Linked DNA regions of Homo sapiens. The protein of the gene in region 1 purifies or fractionates together with the protein of each later gene. This does not show direct contact. Each region holds a gene or a part of one and is shown in the gene's direction. Other genes may lie near its edges.

Region 1 (4,370 bases):
CAACATGGTGAAACCCCGCCTCTCCTAAAAATGGAAAAATTAGCCGGGCATGCTGGCGGGTGCCTGTAATCCCAGCTACTTGGGAGGCTGAGACAGGAGAATCGCTTGAACCCGGGAAGCGGAGGTTGCAGTGAGCCGAGATCGTACCACTGCACTCCAGCCTGGGCAACAGAAAGGGAGACTCCAGTCTCAAAAAAACAAAACAAAACAAAAACAAAAATTAGCCGGGCATGGTGGTGCACGCCTGTAATTTCAGCTTGTTGGGAGGCTGAGGCAGGAGAATCGCTTGCACCCAGCAGGTGGAGGTTGCAGTGAGCCGAGATCGAGCCACTGCTCTCCAGCCTGGGCAACAGAGACTCCATCCCCTCAAAAAACAAAATAATAAAATAAATACACCCTCCTGCCTGAGGGACCTTGCACTAACTATTCCCTCTGCCTGAAATGCCCCCTTTCTCCAGAAATCTGCACCACTGACTCACTCATTTCCTTCATGTGTTTACTCAAGTCAACTCTGAAGCCTGCTCTGCCTGCCCTATTTAAAACTGCAACCCCATCCCCCTTTCCTGTTTTTCCTTCACACCATTCCCATCTAACATACTACAGAATTTACCAATTTTGTTCATGTCTATCTCCTCCCACTTGACTGTAAGCTCTATGACTATTAATGAAATATCTACTAATTCATTCAATTAATTGAATACTGCTATTAAGTGCCAAGCACTGTGCTAAGCAATGGAGCTACAAGATGACTAAAACTGCTTGTAGGTCTTGTGAGGGAAGAATCCTAATGACAATAAATGTAGCTCATTTAGTCAATGCTTCTCCAAACATCGTGATGGCTAATACTAAAACAGACTCAGTTCTGCATGCTCTATTTCATTTAACCCTCACCGAAACCTACACGGTGACCATCAGCAGCCTCATCGTAAAGCATAAAAAAACAAGATTGCAAGGCTGGGAAATGGCAGTCAGGATCTGAACCACGGTGTTGACAATGAGAACGGTGAGTAACGTCAAATGTGAGAAATATTTAGGACTTAGGCTCACAAAGACTAAGGCAAAGATCGGATGTGGGGGCCGAGGGAGGGAGGAAATGACTCCTGGATTTTGACTGGGGTGGACTAAAGCGCAGTGAGGCCTAAGAGAAGGATGAAGCGCAACGTGGGGCTGGGCTGGAGGTGCCTGCGGACCGGTCAGGGATATGGTCCACCCCTAGGGGAGCGGAGAGGCGGCTCCGCACCCTCCTCCGGTCGCCGCCGCCCCGGTCCAGGAGATGCTGAGAGAAGACACGCACGGGAAGAGCAGGAGGTGGGTTCCGTTCCCCTCCCTCTTGAGTCTCTTCACCAGCAGCTGCAGGAAGGGCGTGGGGGACCGAGAGACAAAGAGCGCGCAGGCACCGCCTCCGTCCGGGCGGCCCCTTTAAGAAGCGCGCGCCAGCTTCCAGCCCGCCTTGTATGCAAATGTAGCGGCGCGGCGGGAGCGCGCGGCTGATACCCGGGACTGGGCTGCGGCGGTTAGTCCTCTCCCGGCCGCCGTCGCCTCCGACATATTGCCCGCAGGAGCTGCGGCGGCGAAGCGGAGAGCACCGGGGGGAGGAGATGGGTGAGCAGAGCGGCTCAGGCTCGGCCTGGCAACGAGCGGGCGCACGGGTTAGGATGGCCAGGCTGCTAATTGCTGCTCCACGCGGACAGGAGCCCGGTGACGGGAGGGGGAGGGGATGCGAGCGCAGACGGGATCCCGCCCCCTCCTGTCGTTTTGCGGGGTGGGGCCTCTGTTGTGGGGGCGGGACATTGGACGGTGGGCGGGGCTTCTAAGACGAAGCCCTGTGGGGGCTTGGGCTTTCGTGAGGACCAGCTCGTCGGGGCTAGAAAGGGGGGCGGGACTTACCAGTGGGCGTGGCTTCAGCGCTAAGGGTGGAGATTCTGGGCAGGGGGCGCTAGTGCAGTCGGCGTTTCTGGGTTGGAGGGGTTACACTGGGGGCGGTGGAGCGGGGAGACTTCCGACTGAGGGAGCCCATTCTGGAGTGGGGCTTCTGGGCTGAGAGGGCTTTTATTGGCTTGTGGGCGGGGTTTCTGGGCTGACAGTTGTGTGTAGGCGGAGCTTCTGGGCTGAGGGGCTTTATGTGGGTGCAGAGCTTCTAAAGAGAGGAGAGTGGGTGTGGGCAGAGCTTCTGGACTGGACTAAGGGTGTTTGTGTGGGATTTTCTAAGCCAAGTATAACAGCGTATGAACAGAGCTTCTGGTCTGGGGGTTTATGGAGGGCAGAGCTCTTCGCCAGGTACTTTTTAGAGACTTGTGGAGGTTTATAATTTTGGGCATACATCCAAGCCCAAAATTGGCTCCGAAGTGTGGGAAACGCTTCCGAGCTGAGATGCTACGGCGTGGGGTGTATGTGAATGGAGGCTGCTGTGTTACTGTGAAGAGGTATGAACAGGTTATAACTTTTTAAAAATATGTATATGTATGTATATATATTTTTTAATAGAGACCGGGTTTCGCCATGTTGCCCAGGCTGGTCTCCAACTCCTGGTCTCAAGCGATCCTCCCGCCTCGGCCTCACAAATTGCTGAGATTACAGTCGTGAGCCACCACACCCAGTCAGGTTGTGACTTTTTTAGGTGCTTAGGAGCTTTGTGCAGAACTTTTGTGCGAAGTGGTGCGTGGGAGCTTGGGCTAGACTGCTCAGCCTAGTAGGTCCAATTTTTCAGTCCACAGCCACAGGATTCTCCCAGCCATATCCTTGACCCTTTATTTAGGCCCTGGGTCCTGCCCATGAGATCCCAGAATGCCCTTTGAGCTGAATCATGGGGCCCTGGATGAAAAAGCTGTCCCAAAGTTACCCAGAGTTATAGGCCTCCAGAAACTTATGTCTGAATGGGGCCCAATGTGTACCAGAGTTGAGAGCACACGACCCAGCCACGATACTGTGACATAGTGTAAGCTGAGTTTCCTAATGTGTGAAAAACCTACCTTGCTGGGTTCATTCACTCATCAACATATACTTGCTGGGCACTGAGGTAGGGGATATAGCAGTGAAAAAGATAAGGTAACTGACCTCATTGACCTTTCATTGTAATAGGACAGACAAGCAATAAGCATATTAACAAATGAGTAAGATAATTTCAGAGAGTGAATTCTGGTGGAAAAAAAGAATAGAAATTGGAGAGAGAGTGATGGGGAGTTACTTCAAAACTTCAGAAATGGCAGTCCGGGAAAGGCTTTCCAGATAGGATATTATAAGTGCTAGAGGTAGCAATGAGCTTGGCTTGCTGAGGAAAGAAAGATCAAGATGTTTAGAGCATGGGGCGGGTGGTAGAGGGTGGGTGTGAGGTAGAGAATGATAGGGGATGAAGCTGAAGATGTAAGAAGGGGCCAGATCATAGGTCTCAGTGAGGATTAAATGATAAAGTGAGATACTAGGTGACTGGCAGCTGGTATCATTGCTGTTATCCTTGATATATGCCCCCTGGCTTGAGGCTCTATTTTATGTTGAGCCCCACAGGAGGACGAAGAGGTCCCAACAGGACATCTTACTGTCGAAATCCGCTCTGTGAGCCGGGATCCTCGGGGGGCTCTAGTGGAAGCCACACTTCCAGTGCATCGGTGACCAGTGTTCGTTCCCGCACCAGGTAAACCACCTCTCTGTCTCACCCCTCACTGTGGCCTCACAGGGACGATGTGGACAGGGCTCTCTCTGACTGGATTCTAAGATGTGAAATCCTAGATGCCAGTGGGGGCTTAGAGGGGAGTAAGCAGCAGAAAAGATCCAGAGGGAGCTCAGTTGAGGGTGATCACTTGGACAGATGCAGTGGGACATGGTAGAATAAATCCAAAGGCCTGGATTCTAATTACAGTTCTGCTCCAGATTTGCTGATGGCTTGGACAAGTTGCCTCCCTTCTCTGGGCCTCCTTTTCCTCATCTGTAAGATGGACCTAATAATTCTTTCTCTCCTAGGGGGTGTTGGAAGACCTGAATAAGATTAGGGATAGGAAAAGGCTTTGTCGGGTTCCTTTGTCTGACAAGCAGGATTAGGAAGACCCCGTCCTTGCTATGAGCTGCTTTTCTGATCTTATCCCACAATCCTTTGCCTCAGAAGCCCTTCCTGGTAGGATTCTCAGGTCAGCTGCTGATGTTGTTCCCTCCCCACTGTCAGGAGCAGTTCTGGAACAGGCCTCTCCAGCCCTCCTCTGGCCACCCAAACTGTTGTGCCTCTACAGCACTGCAAGATCCCCGAGCTGCCAGTCCAGGCCAGCATTCTGTTTGAGTTGCAGCTCTTCTTCTGCCAGCTCATAGCACTCTTCGTCCACTACATCAACATCTACAAGACAGTGTGGTGGTATCCACCTTCCCACCCACCCTCCCACACCTCC
Region 2 (3,811 bases), on another chromosome or scaffold:
CATGGGGAAACCCCATCTCTACAAAAAATACAAAAATTAGCCGGGTGTGGTGGTGCATGCCTGTAGTCCCAGCTACTCGGGAGGCCAAGGTGGGAGGATCACCTGAGCCTGGGGAAGTTGAGGCTGCAATGAGCCGAGATCATGCCACTGCACTCCAACCTGGGTGACTGAGCGAGACCATGTCTGATTTTTTAAAATTAATTAATTAATTTATTTATTTATTTTTGAGACAGAGTCTTGCTCTGTCGCCCAGGCTGGAGTGCAGTGGCGCCATCTCGACTCACTGCAAGCTCCGCCTCCCAGGTTCACGCCATTCTCCTGTCTCAGCCTCCCGAGTAGCTGGGACTACAGGCGTCCACCACCACGCCCAGCTAATTTTTTGTATTTTTTAGTAGAGACAGGGTTTCACCGCGTTAGCCAGGATGGTCTCGATCTCCTGACCTTGTGATCCACCTGCCTCGGCCTCCCAAAGTGCTGGGATTACAGGCGTGAGCCACCGCGCCCGGCGATTTTTTTTTTTTTTTTAATGAGATCATTTCATGTGTTTAGGGAGCCTGCCTGCTGTGATCTTCCTTTCTGATGGTTCTGAGGCCACACCACTGGTTCTTCTATTTTCTGCTGCGAGCAGCCTGCTTCCTGGCTCCCCTCTCACGACAGACACGTCTGCAAAGAACTCAGGGTGGGGTTTACAAAGAGCTGGAAGGGAGCAGTGCCTGCAGTTTAAATTCGGAGCCTCCAAATAAAAGCTTCAAGGCTCCCAATAGTGTTGGAAAGACAGAGGAGGTCTCCAGCAGAGAGGGCCCTCCTGGCAGTTCCGGCAATTTGGGCGGCATACGCAATTATGAAGCCAAAGAAAAGCCAAATGGCCAACCTCACTCAGCCTCAAACACCTCACACACTCCCACCCGTGTTCCTGCTAGTGGCAGGTATTTTTAGAGTCCTGAGCTCATGGTGTTAAAGCATCTGCCACATGCCTGAGGGCTGGTAGGGATTCAGACTTCTTCAGAGGCAAAAGGCAAGAGTGAAGACTCCTGGGGGGTGGGGGGAGTGGGGATCAGGAGCCAAGTGGTAATGATATTCCTGGGCTATGCCTGCTGTCTTCCTACTGACCTCCATTCCTCCTGTGGTCTGCTCTCCCTTTCTTCCTGTTCGGAACACCACGGAGAGGTGGAAGAAATGAAAATATTTTCTGTCTCTTGCTTGCAGAAGCAAATCAGTCTTTGAGGACTTATGTTTTTTCTGTGTGATCACAGTCAGACGTTCTCTCTGAAATCCCCTTGGCACATATCTAGGATGCCAGACTGCTTGTAGTTTTAGTGGTTCAGGCCATCACTGCCTTTTGATAATGTGTCTGCTGCTGATAATGATGATGATGACAACCTCAGTGACGAGTGTGGTCTGATGCAGAAAAAGACTGCTTACAGTCTTGCTGGAGAGATGCCAAGAGCACTGACGAGACAATTAGAAAACATAAATCTATTCAAAATGGTATGATGCAGACTCAAAGTGCAACAGAGATTCCTAAGAAAAGAGAATTGAAGGGAAGTTGGCGAAGGTTTGAGGAAGAAGCCTGAGGCGTGAGCTTAACCTTGAAGAATGGGTGAGATTTGGATAGGGCAATGAGGGGGCAGCTGATTCTATAGGGGAGGAGTGGACTAGCATGACCCAAAGTACAGAGGAGGGAATCAACCAGGTGTAGCTGAGTAGTTTGAAACCAGGTTGGGAAGGGTCAAATTATGGCAGACAGAATTCCACATGTGGAATCCATGTGATGCCACATACAGTAGAGGGCTGCAGTCGTTTCCTGAAGAGGTGAATGGCATGCTGATACAAGCAGGGATTGACTAAAGCTAGTCAGAAAGCCAGTATTCAGAGATCGGGCACTGGGGCTCACGCCTGTAATCCCAGCACTTTCAGGGGCTGAGGCAGGTGGATCGGCAGTGATTGGGCCTCCCAACATGCTGGGATTACAGGAGTGAGCCACTATACTCAGACTCCAATTTATTTTTATTTATTTATTTTTTATTTTGAGATGGAGTTTAGCTCTGTTGCCCAGGCTGGAGTGCTGTGGCACCATCTCGGCTCACTGCAAGCTCCGTCTTCCGGGCTCATGCCATTCTCTGGCCTCAGCCTCCCGAGTAGCTGGGACTACAGGCACCTGCCACCACACCCAGCTAATTTTTTTATATTTTTTGGTAGAGACGGGGTTTAACTGTGTTAGCCAGTATGGTCTCGATCTCCTGATCTCGTGATCCGCCCGCCTCAGCCTCCCAAAATGCTGGGATTACAGGCGTGAGCCACTGCGCCCTGGCCTCCAATTTATTTTTAAGTTCACTTTTTTGTTACCTAAGGTCAGGAGTTTGAGACCAGCCTGGCCAACACGGCAAAACCCCATCTCTACTAAAAATACAAAAATTAGCCAGGCGCAGTGGCACACGCCTGTTATCCCAGCTACTTGGGAGGCTGAGGCAGGAGAATCGCTTGAACCTGGGAGGTGGAGGTTGCAGTGAGCTGAGATTGCACCACTGCACTCCAGCCTGGGCAACAGAGCAACAGTCCATCTCAAAAAAAAAAAAAAAAAAAAAAAAAAAGCAAGCAAGCGAGCAGTGTTCAGGAGACCCTGCAATGGAAACATCCACAATCCAAAATACTTTGCTCTAGTCCAGGAGTGAGGAGAGGAGAGGCTGGCCGAGGGCCGAGGGACACAGAAATCAGAATAGAAGAAGGGTTCAATCTGAAGGTCTTGCCAGAGGAACTTGGAAGCTGTGTCAATAGAGGGAGATGACGGGGAGCCTGGACAATGAAAACTGATATTCGGAATGATGACTCTAGGGCCCTGTAAAATCTTCACTCAGCCGACAGATTCAATTATATTTACTAGATTATACTTACTGACTGCTAACTCCAAATAAAGGCTATACTTCGTTTTAAGAGCCATAGCAGTCAATTAGTGGCCATAATCAAATTTTCTTTGATAACTGAGAATTGTATAGGGCCTTGGGACCATCATTCTGAGCATGAATCTCCCTTGTCCAAGACGTTGGATATATAAAGGGAAATAGATTGGGCTGAATGTATATCTCCTGGGAGTTATGTCTTTGCATATGTTACAGATAGCAGCTTTTTCTTCATAATTTGGCCTTTATCCCAAAAGCTGAGATACAGAAGAAAAATCCAGTGAATTAAGTTCCTTTTACATAACCAAAAAGTGAACTTAAAAATAAATTGGAGGCTGGGCATGGTGGCTCACGCCTGTAATCCCAGCACTTTGGGAGGCTCGATCATTTGAGGTCAGGAATTCAAGACTAGCCTGGCCAACATGGTGAAACCCCATCTCTACTAAAAATACAAAAATTAGCTGGGCATGGTGGCGCACGACTGTAATCCCAGCTCCTCAGAAGGCTGAAGTGGTAGAATCTCTTGAACCCAGGATGTGGAGGTTGCAGTGAGCTGAGATCACACCACTGCACTCCAGCCTGGGCGACAGAACAAGACTCTCATCTCAAAATAATAAATAAATAAATAAATAGGGCTTGAAGGTGAGATTTTAATACTAACTTTGTTTTCTTTAAAAAGTTATTCAGGCTAGTGGCTCATGCCTGTAATCCCAGCACATTTTGAGGCCGAGGCAGGAGGATTGCTTGAGGCCAAGAGTTCGAGACTAGCCTAGGCAACATAACAAGATTCTGTCTCTACAAAAAAAAAAAAAAAAAAATATATATATATATATATATATATACACATATATATAACATATATACACACAATATATATAACATATATATGTAATATATATAACATATACACTATA

Evidence for each region.
Region 2: the proteins of TMEM39B (region 1) and RAB33A purify together in Homo sapiens (affinity purification with mass spectrometry; one large-scale study listed by BioGRID and IntAct). This does not show direct contact.

What each region holds. Positions count from the first base shown.
Region 1 is NC_000001.11:32,071,450-32,075,819, forward strand, and holds the start of TMEM39B (transmembrane protein 39B), read left to right. Parts: upstream 1-1,489; 5' UTR 1,490-1,598; coding exon 1,599-1,602; intron 1,603-2,051; exon of another isoform or gene 2,052-2,423; intron 2,424-3,501; coding exon 3,502-3,628; intron 3,629-4,153; coding exon 4,154-4,370. UniProt on the Homo sapiens protein: May protect the cells against DNA damage caused by exposure to the cold-warming stress and facilitates tissue damage repair during the recovery phase.
Region 2 is NC_000023.11:130,178,444-130,182,254, forward strand, and holds part of RAB33A (ras-related protein Rab-33A), read left to right. Parts: intron 1-3,811.